Linked DNA regions of Homo sapiens: region 2 is linked to region 1. The links come from fine-mapping of genetic effects on gene expression. A gene starts in region 1. The other region holds a variant in brackets. All regions are shown on one strand. Distances are between the middles of the regions.

The links. PIP is the estimated chance that this variant, and not a neighbour inherited with it, causes the effect.
Region 2: its variant is fine-mapped to the expression of CYTL1 in whole blood (TOPMed, PIP 0.97).

What each region holds. Positions count from the first base shown.
Region 1 is chr4:5,015,934-5,024,934 of GRCh38, reverse strand. CYTL1 (cytokine like 1) reads left to right here and starts at 5,477. Exons shown (of 4, transcript NM_018659.3): 1 at 5,477-5,642; 2 at 7,756-7,800; 3 at 7,971-8,099. The coding sequence starts at 5,490. It also overlaps a transcript of STK32B not described here.
Region 2 is chr4:4,990,306-4,999,306 of GRCh38, reverse strand. No RefSeq gene overlaps it. Among named protein-coding and RNA genes, the nearest start is that of CYTL1, 25 kb to the left of the region's middle. RefSeq lists an enhancer at 3,828-3,977. The variant C/T (reference allele first, on the strand shown) is at 4,009.

The DNA.
Region 1 (9,001 bases):
CCCAAGCCTGGGGTTGGGGGTGCAGCTCCCCCGATCCCCTTGGGGGCCTGTTGTGTAAAGCCGTTGTAACTGCCCATGGATGACATACAGATTTTTAACCAGAAGCCAGACTCTTCCCAACTTTCATGAATCATCGGTTGAGGGCTACTTCTGGGAGGCATTAAGAGTCCCCAATACTCTGGCTTGCTCTAACGTGGGCAGAACAGGCACCTATGGCCAGAGGAAGGCCTGTCGCAGAGGGTGGTGCTGGCAGGTGAAGCCTAGCCCACCTGCCCTTAAATGTCAGGGCTGAGGAGGCTTGGACAGGGCATAGGCAGGGTCCGCTTCCAGCACAAAGCTCAGGACTTTCTTCAGTGGTCACAAGGGAGACCCTACTTCTCAGGACAGGGCCTGGCTTTGGGATGGAGCTAATGGTATATGTGTCAGTTAGAGCTCAACCCAAGAAGCATGACCAGTGGCAGAGAGATATTAAGAGATTTAGTACAAGGAATTGGCTTGCATGATTGTGGACATTGGCCAAGTACAAAATTGTAGTAGGGTAGGCTTTCAGGAAGTGCAAACTGGAATCACCAGAACAGACAAAGCTACTCCACAGGCAGAACTCTTTCTTCCTCAGGGAAGCCTTGGCTGTGCTCTTAAGACCTTCCAACTGAGTAAATCAGGCCTACCCAGAGTATCTAAAATCATCTCCCTTACATAGAGCTTATTGCATAAGGACTCTAATTACATCTACAAATACCATCACAGTAACATCTGGATTAGTGTTAGAATAACTGAGGATGGTAGCCTAGTCAAGATGACACATGAAAACACTATCACAATATAGAACAGAGAAAGAGATAATTCCTTAGTGACTTCATTGAGTTCCTGGATCAAACCATTCCTGAGCTCCAGATTCCCTCTATATTTTCAAATTGCACTTTCCAGAAAACCCAGACTTTGGTGTCTCATGCTGAATTTTCTGTAACACACAGCCTACAGTCCTAACTGACATAGGAAAGGCTCAAAACTGATAGCCTCATTCTGACCAGATCTCCCAGGAAGGGTTGTGTTCCAGTCTGGGTCCCACATAGTGTAAGACTCATGGACACACAGCAGGGTTTGTGTCTGGGAGCCAGGGAGACTTTGAAACAAGGAGGAGCAAGATTGAATTTCTGCTTTAGAAATGGCCACCGGGAGGAGATAGGGCTCTAGACAGAGAGGCGTTAATCGTGATGTAATTGAAGGGTCTTGAGGCCACTTCTCATTAAAAGGGTTCACGAAGTGGGGATGGTAGCTCCAAAAGAGAGTTGACTCTGTTTTGAGGGGCAGGGAGGAGTGGAGGTAGAGACATTGAAGAATGAGAATGGTCTTAACATCGCCACACCTCCGTTCTGCATAAGAAGGTACAGGATTTGAAGGCCTGCACCAGGGTGTCATCGCATCTCATCTCCACCCTGGGAAGAATTTGGAGCTGCCCAGAGACTGGAAGGAAGTTGTAAGAGGCAAAGAGCTCCCTGTCCAGGGACGTATGCAAGCAGACTCTGGACAAGCACTTGACAGGGAGACTGTAAAGGAAGGATAAGCAGCAGGCAGGTAGATCTGGATAATTTCTAGGTTCCCACATTAATTTCTGTTATTCTACCAAACCCCAGAGAGACAGTATGCTTGTTTCCTGTGGCTGCTGTAACAAATCACCACAAACCGAGGGACTCCAAGCATCACGAATTTATGATCTTACAATTCCGGGCTCAGAAGGGGTCTAACTGGGCCCGTTTTGGAGGCCCTAGGCAGGAATCTTTCTTTGCATTCTAGAGGCCTCCTGAATTCCTTGGCTTGTGGCCTCTTCTCCCATCTTCAAAGCCAGCAGCACAATATCTTACAATCTCCCTCACTCTCTGTCTTTCACAGAGACACACACAAACACACACATATACACACACACACACACACATGCCTTCATACCTACCCCGCTTCCCCACTGCATTCGTCACCTCTCAGCTCTCACCTGATAGGGAGCAGCTGCCAGTGATGGGTTAGGGGCTCCAGAAACACTAGGATTTCTGCCATCACACCACTCACCCAGAGTGTCAGCTGCCCTCATCAATCTCCTCCGAGAGGATAGCAACTCTGTCATTCACTGTCTTTTCACCCATCTCAGTGCCTGGCACACAACAGACTCTCGATAAATAGATAGACATGCATCTGGCAAATGAAGAACCCATCCAAAGGCAATGGCCGATATCTACCTCAGAGATGTTCACCTGCTCGTTAACTCTGACTCTTCAGCTCTCCTGCATGATGGGGTCCGTGCCCGATGTAAGACATTAAGAAAACCAGAAGAGACCTTTTGGCGGAGACAAGGGCTTACCTGATTTGTGGGCAAATTCCTGCCTGGATTTTTAATATTCGGAGCAGCCAACTGCTGAAGGAGCCTCAGAAGGGGGCAGAGAAAGAGCTGGTGGGAGGATGCAGGTGATTCGTGGTGAAGGAGACATTTGAGAACAGAACACACGTGCGGGGGTCCACCAGCCTGTATCCAGTGCGGCGTCTCATAGGGAGCCCCTGGTGGGGAGCCACGTCAGGCTGTCCTGCGTAGGTTTCTTAGTGGGCTTGTGCCTTAATCTCTGAGTAACACGAGTAGTCACCAAGTCCATTCAGCCACACCTTACTGGTCATCCGCTCTACCTGGCTGCGTGCTGGGTGCCGAGAAACAGATGAGAAAGACTGTCTTTCTCTCCTAGAGAAGGGCATGGTCATTAAAGGAGACAGATGCCAGGAGGCAAGTCAATGTATCATGCATAGGATGCGGAGGAACCCTGGAGAGGGCCAGAAAGCAGATAGAATTCCCGGATGCACACTGGCATGCATTGGGCTCGGCAGGCAAGCTTGTGTGTGTTGGGCTCGGCACAGGCTGTTTCTCCTTGTCTCCACCTGCCCTGGGAATCAGCACGAGGCACCCTCTCCTCTGGTGTTCTTCCCATTCATCCCACTCCTGGCTTGGTAGAGTGAGAGGTGGCGATTCTCTTGCACCTGGCCCAGTGCACAACAGCCTCATTCCTTGTCTCCCCACTGACTGTGACTCCTCAGGGGCCCAGCATCCACCATATCTCAGTTGGTACCAGTGACAGCTTATGGCTACAGCCACTTACTCATTCATTCTCATGCTCAATGGGAAGGCCTATAAGCCTCTTTGCAGCTCTGAGCTCAGCTGATTTACCCAAGAAGTCCCATGAATAACCACACACGGTATTGCGGGTGGAACAAGGTCAAGTCTCCCAGCAGTACATTTATCTCACAAATGACTCCTGTTTTCCAGCACAGCAATGTCTCCTTGATCTAATGGTGCAGGACTTGTTTGGTCCATGGGCTTGTTTTTCTTCCCTGCTCTGAATTTAAGCCCATTCCTTGAGCACATCCAGAAGCCCTAGAGCATTTTAAAGCAGACCTAGAGTCCCCAGCTGGGGCCAGCTATTCTGCCAGGGAGGCCCATGCCCCAGGCACTATCATGGAGGGAGTGTGGAGACTCCTTCACCCAGAAGAAAACACATCTGTGCCTCCACTTGCCACCTCCAAGCACACACAGTTCTGCCCGAAGGCCGCGGTCCCTATGTCATCTTGCTAAAGGTGTTTAGAGAACACATTCTCACCTACAAAACAGGAAGGCACAGCTTACAGTCCCTGCCCAGGGCTTTTACCACCAGAAACTAGATAAATAAAACACTGGGGCTGGAAGGAACCTCAGACATCGCCCAGCGTGATGCTATCCTGTTTACAGACAGGGAATGGAGGCCAGGTCGAGAAGGGATTTCTCCTGGCAAATACAGTGGGGACAAGCTGGAGCCGGGCTTCATCCCTGTGGTTGATCCTCAGTCCAGCCCTGTGTCCAGGATGCCATGCTCTGGTTCACCCATCCCTGTGGGCTGCATCTTTGGTTGTTTTGTTCTGGGAATGTGGAGCTTGCCCAGGATGCTCCCCTTTCCTCCTTTGTTGGAGGAAGCTTTGGAGGCAGGAAAGTCCAGACATAGCTCCAGGGCTCCACTGCTCTTCCCAGCTTCACATCCCCCGAGGCCCTCAGTTTCCTCGCCTGGGAATTGGGAATAACCCCATTCACTTCATTGGCTGGCTGTGAGGGTCATAGCGTTCCCAATGGCAGCTGGCCTGGTGGCTGCTGGTATGTAAGTCATGTTCAGTGTTAAGGAAGAATCTTCTCCCTTTTGACAGTTCCTTCTTGCTTGTTGCCTGATCTTGGGCAGCCTGAGGACCCCAACTCATCTCTGCCTGCAAGAGTCCTGCTCCTCACCCATCCTGCCCTGTGGGATGGAAGAATGGCAGGAGGACAGGGCCTGAAGTCTCATCCCAACCCATGTGCCTCCAGCTTTGTGACCTCCAGCAAGTTGCTGGAACTCTTGAGCCTCAGTTTTCCCACCTGGAAAATGGGACTCTTTTCTGTGGCACCTACCTCACAGAGACAATTGCTGGATTTAACAGAGACAGTGCTATTAGCTCCGATCACTTGGAAACACACAATGGGCCTGGCATGAGGCTTGCTCAGTCATGCTATATCCTGTTGATTCCTCACTATGGCCTTTTGAGTGAGCCACTCTCACCAGCCTCATCTCACAGATAAGGAGATGGAGGAAACACTGAAGAAACTTGCCCAAGGTCAAAGCCAGAAGGCGGTGACCCTGCTTTGCACCCACGGCGTCTAAGTGGAGAGCCTAGACCTTTACCTGCCACTGTCTTGGGAAGTTAGCCCTGAGGGAGATGCACTTCTTGAAAACTAACCCTTCCTGAGGGTCTGCTCTCCCTCGGGGCCTGTGCTGGGAGCTTGAGGTAGAAGAGGGTGGGGGTACTCACACTCCCCACACATACGGCCGCTCAGTGAGCCCATCCTCCGGACCGAGAGACACACACGGCTTCTGAGAGGCTGGGGGCCCTGGCCCAAGGCTCACCTACCTGGTTAGCGATTGATGGACGAGGACACCGGTGGCCTGACCGCAGCTCTGCATCCCTGCTCCACTGCGGGCTGCCTGGAGGGAGGGATGCTCAGTCATCCCCTGCTAGTCCCTTTCCCTCCTGGCACTATATCCATTTTGACAAACCGTGCCATCCAAACCCAGGCCTGACTGCCCACTCCTCTCCTCTGACCCTCCCCTCCTTCCATCTCTGTCCTCCTCTTATCCCCCACCCCTCTCCATCTGCTGTTCCTGCCTTTTCAGGAAAAGTCCCTGTGCAGAAAGAAATTTCTTGCTGAAAGTGTGGGGGAGGCAAAGCCACCCTCTGTCACCCCCTCCTCCAGGCAGCCCCTCCTCTTAACCTGGGGCTTTCGTGTCTGAGAGGATTCCTGTCCCGACCCTGCCCGGTGGGCGTGCTGGCTTCCTCTCTGCCACCCTGGATGGACCGCAGCCTGCGCTGGCCCCACAGGAAGTGGAGGCGTGGAGCCGCCCTGGACCACCCCCAGCCTGCATAAAGGGGCGGTCGGCGAGGCTGCACCAGCGCCTGGCACCATGAGGACGCCTGGGCCTCTGCCCGTGCTGCTGCTGCTCCTGGCGGGAGCCCCCGCCGCGCGGCCCACTCCCCCGACCTGCTACTCCCGCATGCGGGCCCTGAGCCAGGAGATCACCCGCGACTTCAACCTCCTGCAGGTCTCGGAGCCCTCGGTGAGTCCCCCGCCCGCTCAGGACAGGGGTGCATGGCAGACCCAGTTCTTAAACCCTTGCCTTTACACGAAAAAAAAAAGAGAGAGAGAGAGAAAAGGATATTTTTCTTTTCTAGTAAATGTAAATCTCAGGAGTATTTGTGTTTTATTCATCTCCTTTTAAATATGATACCAATGGTTTGCTTTCTTCAAAACACAAGAAAAAGTAAAGACAACACAATTTTTGTGACTTACTAGCAAATATCAAAGGATCTGTTGTAAAATGTAAAAAAAAAAAAAAAAAAAAAAAAGAAAAAAGAAAAAAAAAGGAGTGGGAGGATGGGGAGAAAAACAGCTCCCCATCAGAGTTAAGGAGGACGGAGGAATGAAGCTTGTGTATTGCTTTTGTTAGCCTAGTGAGGAGTGTGCCCTAAGAGGTGGCTCACAGAACTGGCCTCCGCCCCTCATCTGCTGAGGGACCCGGGCAAATTTCTCAGCCTCTGCCTTTCAGTTTTCTTGTCTGTAAAATGGGATGACAGTAGCACCCCTCCCTTTAGAGTGGCTTTGACGATCAAAGGCAGGTGTGAACACAGGCAGGGCTCACAGAGCCAAGCCTACAGGAACAAGTACTCAACAGATGCCAGCTGATGTGAGCACGATCTTCAGAGGCAGATCTGGGGACTCAGAGAGGGGAAGACCCGGGAGGGCTTTTGGGGACTAGAACCCAGGCCTCTGCCTGCTTCTCCGTCGAAACAAAATGCATTAAACTTCATTAAAAGCTTTTGTAAAGTTTCAAAGTGTCTTTTAATCACTTGCAAATGCTTCAAACAAAACATAATGTTTCTCAGATGTTGGGGTTTACAAAAGCCTAGCTAACACCTTCTTGGTATTTTCTTTTTAAAAGTTAAATAACATGTATTTTTTCCCTAATTATAAAAGTATTGTACTTTGTAGAACAGTTGGAAAATAAAGTACAAAGAAGAAAAAAAATCTTGCTTGTAATTCTACCACCTAGAGGTAGCTGCTGCCGTAGCATTGTGGAGGATCATATTTCAGCTTTCTGTCTACATATAGGTATTCAAATACGTGTGTGTTGTGTGTGTGTGTGTGTGTAAACAAAATTTGGGTCAAACAGCACAAGCAGTTTTGCAACTTACTTTTTAATGACACTATCAAATAAGTTCATTTTTGTTTTAACATTTTGTTGTACAGTTTCACCACAATTTACCCACAAGTTTCTTGTTATCGAATATAGACAGCAATCATCTTTTAAAGGAATCTGATTTTAAAAGGTTTAAAAAGTTCAGAGGCTCTGAACCACAGAGCGGGAAGAAAGTGGAAAGATTATGCATTCTAAATCTCTAATTTCACAACTGAGGACTGAAGGAAGGCACTTGCCCATGGTCACACGGGGATTACTGAGAGGGCAGAGCACGAGGGCTTTTGCCCTTCAGCCCTGCGCAAAAACGGAAGCCCAATATAGAAATATAAAAGTATGCAAATTTATGCACTTCGATATTACTATATTATACACTATATACAACTACATATTAGCTATAGAATGCCTATAGAACAATAGGTATTATTACATATATCGTACTTATGTAAGTATATATAATGTCTATAATTACATGCAGTTATACAACTGTTATATAGCTAATATACTTATATAAGTTATTATATAAGTATATTATTATATAAGTTACTATATAACTAACTTATACAACTGTTATATAACTAAATAGTTATAGAACTGTTTTATAGATGTACATATATACTCTGTATGTATACTTGTATTACTGTATTATATATCACTATTTCTATATTACAGTTATAGGACTGCTTTTATGTATATACGTGTATGTATATTTCTGAATGGGTATGCATATAAAACAGCTCCCTGGTTCATAGCAAATGATATAAAAGTTGTATTCTAAAAGTCTAATTCCGGAAGCGCAGTCGCCCATTTCTGGAGGAGTGTGACGTATGACACAAGAAAGTACTGTGCATGTCGTAGCATCAGGGAGGGCCCCAGGGATCTGGGCTGGTCTGGCTGTTGAGAGGGCCACTAGGGAGACTTTTGTGACCAGGTATGCCCCTGTGGGCATCCCAGAACCCCTTATCCCTTTCCACAGGAGCCATGTGTGAGATACCTGCCCAGGCTGTACCTGGACATACACGTAAGAGGGTTCTCCCTGGGGGAGGGAGGTCTTGGGCTGAGGGACTCAGGTCTGAACCTCTGCTGCTGGCTGTGTGGCACAGAGTCAGGGAGAGATCTTATGCAGCTCAGTCCCTGTTCCTCTTGCTACTGACTTCTCCCACAAGCCCCCTCCCCATTGCCCACTCCCAGAATTACTGTGTGCTGGACAAGCTGCGGGACTTTGTGGCCTCGCCCCCGTGTTGGAAAGTGGCCCAGGTAGATTCCTTGAAGGACAAAGCACGGAAGCTGTACACCATCATGAACTCGTTCTGCAGGAGAGTAAGTGGATGCCATTGAAAGTCTATTTTCTACTTGCTATCAGCCAAGACTTTCTGAGCTTTTCAAAGAGGAGAGTTGGGAGGAGATGGTGACAAGGAAGAGGAGCAGAGATGTTTCGCAGATGCTTTCAGTTCACAAAGCCCTTTCTCAACCATGGTTGCCTTGTTGGGTGATGGGGTTCAGGACAAGGCCCTTTGTCTCCATGAGCTGCGCATTGATGCAGGGGCTACACCCCAGGACCACACCCCAGCCACATAGATAGACTCTGCCAGGAGCCAAGTGAGGCAGGGTAGAGGAGACTCTGCAGGAGGAGGTTCAGGTGTGCTCTGATAAGAGGATTCCGGTAGGAGAGGGTAAAAGGACAGAAAATCAGCAATAGTTAAAATGTGGAAAGTAGAGGCATGTGATTGCAGGGCACAGACTTCAGCATCAGAGAGCCCTGAGCTTGGGTCTGTATCTCCCTGCTTCCCAAGTGGGAGTGCCTGTCTTAGTCTGTTTCTGCTGCTATAACATAACACCACAGACTGGGTCAGTTATTTTTTAAAAAAAGATGTTTGTTTAGCTTATGGAGGAGGCTGGGGGGTAGTCTAAGAGCATGGTGCTGGCATCTGGTGAGGGCCTTCTTGCTGCATCATACCATGGCAGAGGTCATCACTCAGCAAGAGGGTAAGAGCCAGAGAGAGTTCACTTTTTTAACAAAGCCACCCCTGCAATAAGCAACCCTCTCCCAAGGTAGTGACGTTAATCCATTCATAAGGGCAGAGCCCTCATTAATCCATTCATTAAGTCAAAGCCTACATTAATTCACCTACAAAGGCAGAGGGATTAAGTTTCCAACACATAAACTTTTGGGACCACATTCAAATCACAGCAGTGTCCCTTCACTCCTCTGAGGCACAGTT
Region 2 (9,001 bases), 26 kb after region 1:
ATTAACAAAATAGACTGGTAGCTAGACTAATAAAGAAATAGAGAGAGAAGAATGATATAGACACAATAAAAATGATAAAGGGGATATCACCACTGATCCCACAGAAATACAAACTACCACCAGAGAATTCTATAAACACCTCTATGCAGATAAACTAGAAAATATAGAAGAAATGGATAAATTTCTGGATACATACACCCTCCCAAGACTAAACCAGGAGAAGTTGAATCCATGAATAGACCAATAACAAGTTCTGAAACTGAGGTAGTAATTAATAGCCTACCAACACAAAAAAGCCCAGAACCAGACGGATTCACAGCCAAATTCTACCAGAGGTACAAAGAGGAGCTGGTACCATTCCTTCTGAAACTATTCCAAACAATTGAAAAAGAGGGACTCCTCCCTAACTCATTTTATGAGGCCAGCATCATCCTGATACCAAAACTGGGGAGAGACACAACAAAAAAAGAAAACTTCAGGCCAATATCCCCGATGAAAATTGATGCAAAAATCCTCAATAAAATACTGGCAAACCAAATCCAGCAGTACATCAAAAAGCTTATCCACTACAATCAAGTTGGCTTCATCCCTGGGATGCAAGGCTGGTTCAACATATGCAAATCAATAAATGTAATCCATCAGATAAACAGAACCAATGACAAAAACCACATGATTATCTCAGCAGATGCAGAAAAGGCCTTCGATAAAATTCAACATTCCTTCATTTTAAAAACTCTCAATATACTAGGCATTGATGGAGCATATCTCAAAATAATAAGAGCTATTTATGACAAACCCATAGCCAATATCATACTGAATAGGCCAAAGCTGGAAGCATTCCCTTTGAAAACTGGCGTAAGGATGCCTTCTCTCGCCACTCCTATTCAACATAGTATTGGAAGTTCTGGCCAGGGCAATCAGGCAAGAGAAAGAAATAAAGGGTATTCAAATAGGAAGAGGGGAAGTCAAATCGTTTCTGTTTGCAGATGGCATGATTCTGTATTTAGAAAACCCCATTGTCTCTGCCCCAAAACGGCTTAAGCTGATAAGCAACTTCGGCAAAGTCTCAGGATACAAAATCAATGTGCAAAAATCACAAGCATTCCTATATACCAATAATAGACAAACAGAGAGCCAAATCATGAGTGAACTCCCATTCACAATTGCTACAAAGAGAATAAAATATCTAGGAATACAACTTACAAGGAATGTGAAGGACCTCTTCAAGGAAAACTACAAACCACTGCTCAAGGAAATGAGAGGACACAAACAAATGGAAAAAAAATTCCATGCTTGTGGATAGGAAGAATCAATATCATGAAAATGGCCATACTGCCCAAAGTAACTTATAGATTCAATGCTATTCCCATCAAGCTATCGACTTTCTTCACAGAATTAGAAAAACCTACTTTAAATTTCATATGGAACCCAAAAAGAGCCCATATAGCCAAGACAATCCTAAGCAAAAAGAACAAAGCTGGAGGCATCACACTACCTGACTTCAAACTATACTACAAGGCTACAGTAACCAAAGTAGCATGGTATTGGTACCAAAACAGTCATATAGACAAATGAAACAGAATAGATACCTCAGAAATAACACCTCACACCTACAAGCATCTGATCTTCAACAAACCTGACTAAAACAAGCAATGGGGAAAGGAGTCCCTATTTAATAAATGGTGCTGGGAAAACTGGCTAGCCATATGCAGAAAACTGAAACTGGACACCTTCCTTACACCCTATACAAAAATTAACTTGAGATGGGTTAAGGACTTAAATGTAAAACTAAAAATCATAAAAGCCTTGAAGAAAACCTAGGCAATACCATTCAGGACATAGACATCGGCAAAGACTTCATGACTAAAACACCAAAAGCAATTGCAACAAAAGCCAAAATTGACAAATGGGATCTAATTAAACTAAAGAGCTTCTGGACAGCAACAGAAACTAGCATCATAGTGAAGAGGCAACCTGCAGAATGGGAGAAAAAGTTTGCAATCTACCCATCTGACAAAGGTCTAATATCCAGAGTCTACAAGGAACTTAAACAAATTCACAAGAAAAAAAAAATTCAAAATGTGGGCAAAGGATATGAGCAGGCACTTCTCAAAAGAAGACATTTATGTGACCAAGAAAAATGTGAAGAAAAGCTCATCATCACTGAGAAATGCAAATCAAAACCACAATGAGATACCATCTCAAGCCAGTCAGAATGGCGATTATTAAAAAGTCAGGAAACAATAAATGCTGTTGAGGCTGTGGAGAAATAGGAACACTTTTACACTGCTTGTGGGAGTGTAAACTAGTTCAACCATTGTGGAAGACAGTGTGGTGGTTCCTCAAGGATCTAGAACCAGAAATACCATTTGGCCCGGCAATCCCATTACTTGATATATACCCAAAGGATTATAAATCATTCTACTATAAAGACACATGCACACGTATGTTTATTGCAGTACTATTTTCAATAGCGAAGACTTGGAACCAACCCAAATGCCCATCAATAATAGACTGGATAAAGAAAATGTGGCACATATACACCATGAAATACTAGGCAGACATAAAAAAGAATGAGATCATGTCCTTTGCAGGGACATGGATGAAGCTGGAAGCCATCATCCTCAGCAAACTAACACTGGAACAGAAAACCGAACACCACATGTTCTCACTCATAAGTGGGAGTTGAACAATGAGAACACATGGACACAGGGAGGGGAACATCACACACCGGGGCCTGGGGCCTGTCAGTGGGTGGAGAGCAAGGGGAGGGAGAGCATTAGGACAAAACTGGGTTTAAATTGAACCAGAAGTCTGGGTTTAAATCCTGACGCTGACTCCTCGAAGCATCTCTTGGCTTCAGTTTCCACATCTGTAAAATGGGGTTCATAATAATACCTACTGAATAGAGTTGCGTGAAGAGCCATGTAAGTTATTTCGTGGAGAACATTTGGAGAAGAGGCTGGCACACACCAATGGTTCACCACCGATGGTAGCAACTGTCCTCAGGAGGGTGCCCCCGGGAAGCAGGGAGGCAAGGCTGGCGGCAGACAGATTGAGCCTGAGCAGGGCCTGGACAGGCATTGCCTCTCAGGAAAAGGGTCAGGGAAAATGTGGTATAGCTCAGGGGAAGAGTGAAAGCTTGGCCTGGATACATCGAGCATGAGCATCGACAGCAAAAGCCAGAGGCCCCGAAGCCAGCCAGGCTGTGGAGGGGGAGCCTTGCCAAACGTGATTAATTATAAACAGATTTACGCTTGCAAATGAGGTTCTCTGCTAGCAACTATTTAGGCGGGGATTTTTTACACAAAGCATCAGTGTGACCTCTCTATGTGCATTTCTAAAGTGATTAACGATTCTCCAAGGTCAAGTTGCAGTGGTATGTAGATTCTTAAAAATCGATCTATGCTCGTTAATGCCACCAATAACTGAAGCTGAGAAACTTAACATTGTTTGCCTTTCACAATTATTGCCCTCCAGTCTGGGCATAAAACGTAGGCCAGGACCTGCCAGCAGGCTGCTTCAGCCAGGTTCCTCTCCGACTGTTCGGGGCCCCTGCACCCACCTCTCCTCCACCCAGAGGGACGTTCTCAGGACACTGATCTAACCTGGTGCACCCAGCACACCCAACCCCACAGCCTTCCAGGGTCAGCTGTGCTGACGGAAGTCCCTGGGGTCACAGGAAAGGTCGCCTGGGAGAAGGGCTGGTGTGGGTCTAGCAGCGAGTCCCCGGGGTAACCTAGGCAAACCCCTTCCTCCTTCTCTGCCTGCTTTCCCAGGTGTAAGTAGGGGACCCAGGAGGGGATCATGCTGTGGTTCTCCACGGCCCTGTCCAGCCTCCCTCCTGGGTCCTTTCCCCTGGCTTGGGCAAGGGGTTGGGGTTGGTGGTGCTCACCGATCGTGTTCCTGTCCCTTAAGTTGCAAGGCCCTCAGTGGTGACCTGGGACCAGACGAGGCTGACTGCGGACGTTGTCCCAAACTTCATGCAGAGGGAAAAGCACCGCTGCC[C/T]TCTAGCGGCCTTTGGCCAGAATGACCTTGGGCCGAGGTCCTAAAGGGCTGCCTGTGGGGCTCAGTGAAATCCACATTTAACAGCGCTGAGTTCCCACTGCGTGTCAGGACCCAGTGTGCCCAGTGAGGGGCACATGCCTGCCCATGGGAGACTCACTCCTGGAGAGGGATAGGTGCATGGGTTGGGTGGGCGCCACACATAGCGCCTTTTAGCAAAGTGACCTTAACCTTTCTGCATCCCTACTTCATTCATCGTTATAACTGGGCTAAAAATAAAATGACTTCCTTGCAGCAGCTGAGCACCATGACTATGTCCCAGATCCAGCGCCTGCTCGCTGTTCCCACTGCCCCCAGCCTGGACCAAGCCTCCAGCCTCTCTCCCTGTTCTCCCGGCTCCCGCCTTGCGCTGCACCTTTCCTTCTGCACAGGGCAGCCAGGGGACGCACGGAATCCCGCTGCAATCCGACCACGCCATCCTCTGTCCACCACCCTCCAGTGCTTTCCAGCCCACCTGGAGGAAAAGCTGAGTCCCAGCTATGGCCTCTGGGATCCTACAGGATTTTGGGCTGTCACCTCTCAGGTCTCAGGACCTACCTCTCCCCAGCCCACCACAATGCAGCCACACAGCGCCCAGATGCCTGTCCTGGAACGTACAAGCCTTCCCCGGGAGCTCCCTGCCCCCAGGTAGCAGCTCACCTGACGTCCTCAACTTCAGGTTTTCCCTCTGTGTATCCTCCCTGGAATTTCAATTTCAAATTGCAGCTCTCACCTGACAACTCCATCTCCACTTCATTCTTCTCCGCCACACCTGTTGCTATTACAGTCTACAGTTTACTTATTCATTTCACCTAATGGCTGCCTCCCCCAACCAGAATGTCAGCTCCATGGAGACAAGGACTTCTGTCTGTTTCATCCCTGACTGTGCCCTAGCATCTATTATAGTACATAACTCATTGCAGGTGCTCGATAAATATTTGTTAATTAAACAAACACGTGAGTGAACAAGTTTGGATTAGTATCAGCGAGTGAATCTTGGGCGGGGGGGTTGGCAAATGTTATCTCCTAGTATTGTTTCTCTGAGCTAACATCGAATATGAAATGACCAAGGGCGGGTGTCCTCACTGCTGTGGGGCACAGAAATCCCTTTCTCATAGTTTCCTAACCTCAGCAAGGCTCTTGGGGGGTGGGGACGGGCAGGAGGACATAGAAACTGGGATTGGAAATAAATAGGAGTTTTCCCGGGTGAGGCGATGTCCAAGCCAGGAAGCAGCAAGTGTAGAAGTCACAGAAAGGTGCATAGAAAGGGAGCAGGGTCACCAGGGTGGCTGGGACCAAGGGTGTGGGAGTCCAGGGACCCAGGAGAGAAAAGGAGGAGGAAGACAGGTGGTCACTTGGCACACGACTTCGCATTAAAAGCAAGCTCTGCATTGAAAAGCTTGGGTGGGCTGGGTGCGGTGGCTCACACCTGTAATCCCAGCACTTTGGGAGGCTGAGGCGGGTGGATCACGAGGTCAGGAGATGGAGACCATCCTGGCTAACACGATGAGACCCCATCTCTACTAAAAATACAAAAAATTAGCTGGGCATGGTGGCACGTGCCTGTAGTCCCAGCTACTCGGGAGGCTGAGGCAGGACAATCGCTTGAACTCAGGAGGCGGAGGTTGCAGTGAGCCGAGATCACACCACTGAACTCCAGCCTAGCAAGGGAGCGAGACTCTGTCTCAAAAAACAAAAAAAAAAGCTTGGCAGGGCTTAATGTACAGACCACGTGGCGGTAGGTTGGGGTTGGGCAGGAAGGGTTGGAAACCAGGGAGGTGAGTGAGCATTCTTGTGTTCTAGAAAGGTTGCTCTGGTTGCTGTGTGGAGGCTGGAGGATCCAGGGAGCCCCCCAGGAGGCTGCTGCACTAGTCCAGGTGAGAGCCCATGGGCTGTGGGGGGACAGCAGCAGGAGGGCTGAAGAGGAGGTGGCAGGTGGGGGATGGGAAGCCTATGGACCAGAACAATCAGTAGAAGGGCAGGGGAGTGACAGGCATGATTCCTGGATCTTATATGGCCATGACCTGGATGAGTGGAATGGAATCTACCTCCTGTGTCCCTAAATCACTTTTTTCTTCTGGCATTTCCCCATGGTTTTTTGGATTGTTAGCCACAAATATGATTCAAGACCTAGAAAACCTGTTTTATTCCCACTTAAAAATAATTAACAGGGCCTTGCTAATATTGTTGTAAATGCTTTGGATGGTACTGGACCACATCAATAGGAGTAGAGCGGCCAGAATATGGGAGGTGATGCCCCCTGGATACAGCTCACGGCACCTGTCCCAGCGTGCAGTCCAACCCAGAGTGAACACTGATGTGTGTGCCAAGAGGAGGGACCCCCAAACACACACCCAAATAGCCACTAGGAGCGTCAGATGAAGAATCTCGGGGTGCTCACCCTAAAACTAGGAAGACTTGGAACAGATAAAATACCCAAGAGCTGGCCGGGCACGATGGCTTAAGCCTGTAATCCCAGCACTTTGGGAGGCCGAGGCGGGCGGATCATGAGGTCAGGAGATCGAGACCATCCTGGCTAACACGGTGAAACCCCTTCTCTACTAAATATACAAAAAATTAGCCGTGCGTAATGGCGGGCACCTGTAGTCCCAGCTACTCGGGAGGCTGAGGCAGGAGAATGGCGTGAACCCGGGAGGTGGAGCTTGCAGTGAGCTGAGATCACTCCACTGCACTCCAGCCTGGGCGACAGAGTGAGACTCCATCTCGAAAAAAAAAAAAAAAAAAAAAAAAGAAAAGAAAAATACCCAAGAGCTCTGTGGCTGTGTGCCTTGCTTCCATCTGGGGCTGGAGGTGATTATTAGCTTTGTTCCAGTTGGTGCCAAAAAGTAGAATTAAGAGCACGCATGGAGGCCAGGCACAGTGGCACACACTCATAACCCTAGCACTTTGGGAGGCTGAGGCAGGAGGATCTCTTGCGTCCAGGAGTTCAAGACCAGCTTGGGCAGCATGGCAAAACTCTGTCTCTACTAAAAATACAAAAATTAGTCAGGTGTGGTAACACATGCCTGTAATCCCAGCTGAGGTGGGAGGATCGCTTGAGTCTGCAGGACGAGGTTGCAGTGAGTGGTGATGGCACCACTGCACTCCAGCCTGGGCGACAGAGCGAGGCTGGAGTCTGTCTCAAAAAAAAAAAAAAAAGAAAAAAGGAAAAAAAAAACAGCACGCACGGAAGCGAGAGCTGTCCAGGGGTGTCCAGGAATGAAATTGGCTGGCCTGGGCATAGGAGTAAGCCCCTCATCCCAGGAGCCACCAAGGAGAGACAATGTTACCTCTTGGGAAGAAAGTAGAGGGCATATCTGCATTTGAGGTTGGACAAAGTGACCTTTAGTCATCCTCCCAAAACTGCAGATTCACAAATCTGTGAATGAAATGTCCCGAGAAGGGAGCCGTGAGAAGGCCCTGAGAAGCAGCCACCCGCCCCTGCCCGGATTCCCACTCCCGTCAGGAGACACCTAAACCGAGAGAGCCAGCAGGCTTGAGGAGCCCGTGTCCACTGCCCCACTCCACAGACGGGAGCACAGAGAGTGGAGGCAGGATGGACTCACACAGCCTCACATATCTCACTCCTGCTCACTCCTGCCCAGTGGGCCGAATTCAAGACCCCTAAACGCCTCCGCTCACTCTGTTTCCTTATATTTCACTTGTGATTTTTTAAAAGGTCAGTTTATTTCCTATGATCTGCAAGAAGGCAACTGGTATGTGAAAGGGTGAGTGTGGGTGGCTGTTTCCAGTTAAACAAGAGAAAGTTTTTCTAACTGTGTCAAAACTGTGGAGGAGAGACTGGCTAGGCTTCATTAGGATCAGCCCGCGGCGCCCAGGCGCGGCTTAGTCACTGTGGCTTCCTCACTCCTCAACACTTAACCAGCATCTTTGGTCCCCCACCCCCAACCCTGACAAATCTTTAGGCTCTGCCTGGGGCTTGGTGGCAGCCGTCCGAGGTTCTCCAGCCCTTGACAAAGGTCAGTCTGTAGGCCCATCACAGCCAGAGAGCATGGAGGCTGTGCTCGGGCCCTGCTGACTCATGTGGCTGACAGCCAGCGATCCAAGGCTCCACGGGCACTGCTTTGCATCACAGGGTGTCAAGCCAGTGGCAGGGACCCACCCAGGCCAGCCAGTCTCCACTCCCAAATCCAACCCAACCCCGCCCTGCTGCAGGGCTCTCAGCCTTGGGCACTGGGGGCGTCTGGGGCCACCTAGTCCTTTGTCGGTGGTGGGGCTTTGCACTGTGGGGTGTTTAGCCACAGACCCGGCCTCCACCCACAGGATGTCAGCAGCATCACCAGATGATGGCCCAGTCATGACAGCCAAAAACGCCCCAGACATGGCCAAATCAGGGCCCAAATCAGCCCTGTGTTGAGAAGCTCTGAGCTACAGCCAACAGCATCCTCCCTCTTTGTCTTGTTTCCAAAATATTCTTGTGAGGTTCTACAGGAAAAAAGAAAAAAAATGCCTAAGTTTTTATGTCGGGATGTGGACAAGAATGGGAGGCCACAAGCCCTGGCTTGACCCCATGGAGGTCGAGGGTGTTTTACACAGGGCCATCACACATGGACATCACCTTGCTGGCACCTAGAGGCATTGACTGTGCCATCCCTAACCCAATCCAGCCCTCTCCTATCATGGAGGAAGAAAGTGCAGCCCAGAGAGGTTAAGCAACCAGCTGGAAGTCACACAGCAGGCTTAGTCATCTAACCCCCTATCCAGTGCTCTTTCACCACCCTACACCAAGCCTGGATCCAGCCAGCACTCACCAGGAGGCTAAAACTTTGCGGAGGCAAAACATCCCCTTCCAACAGGAACTCAAGACAAGGGCAGAACCTCATTTTCATGTTACAATGCTGTGAAAATGTGCAAAGTAAAATGTGGTAAAAACATGGGTTGGGGCCAAAGCGGTGGAATGAGAAAATACTGCTTGCCATGTGAGCCGGCTAATAAA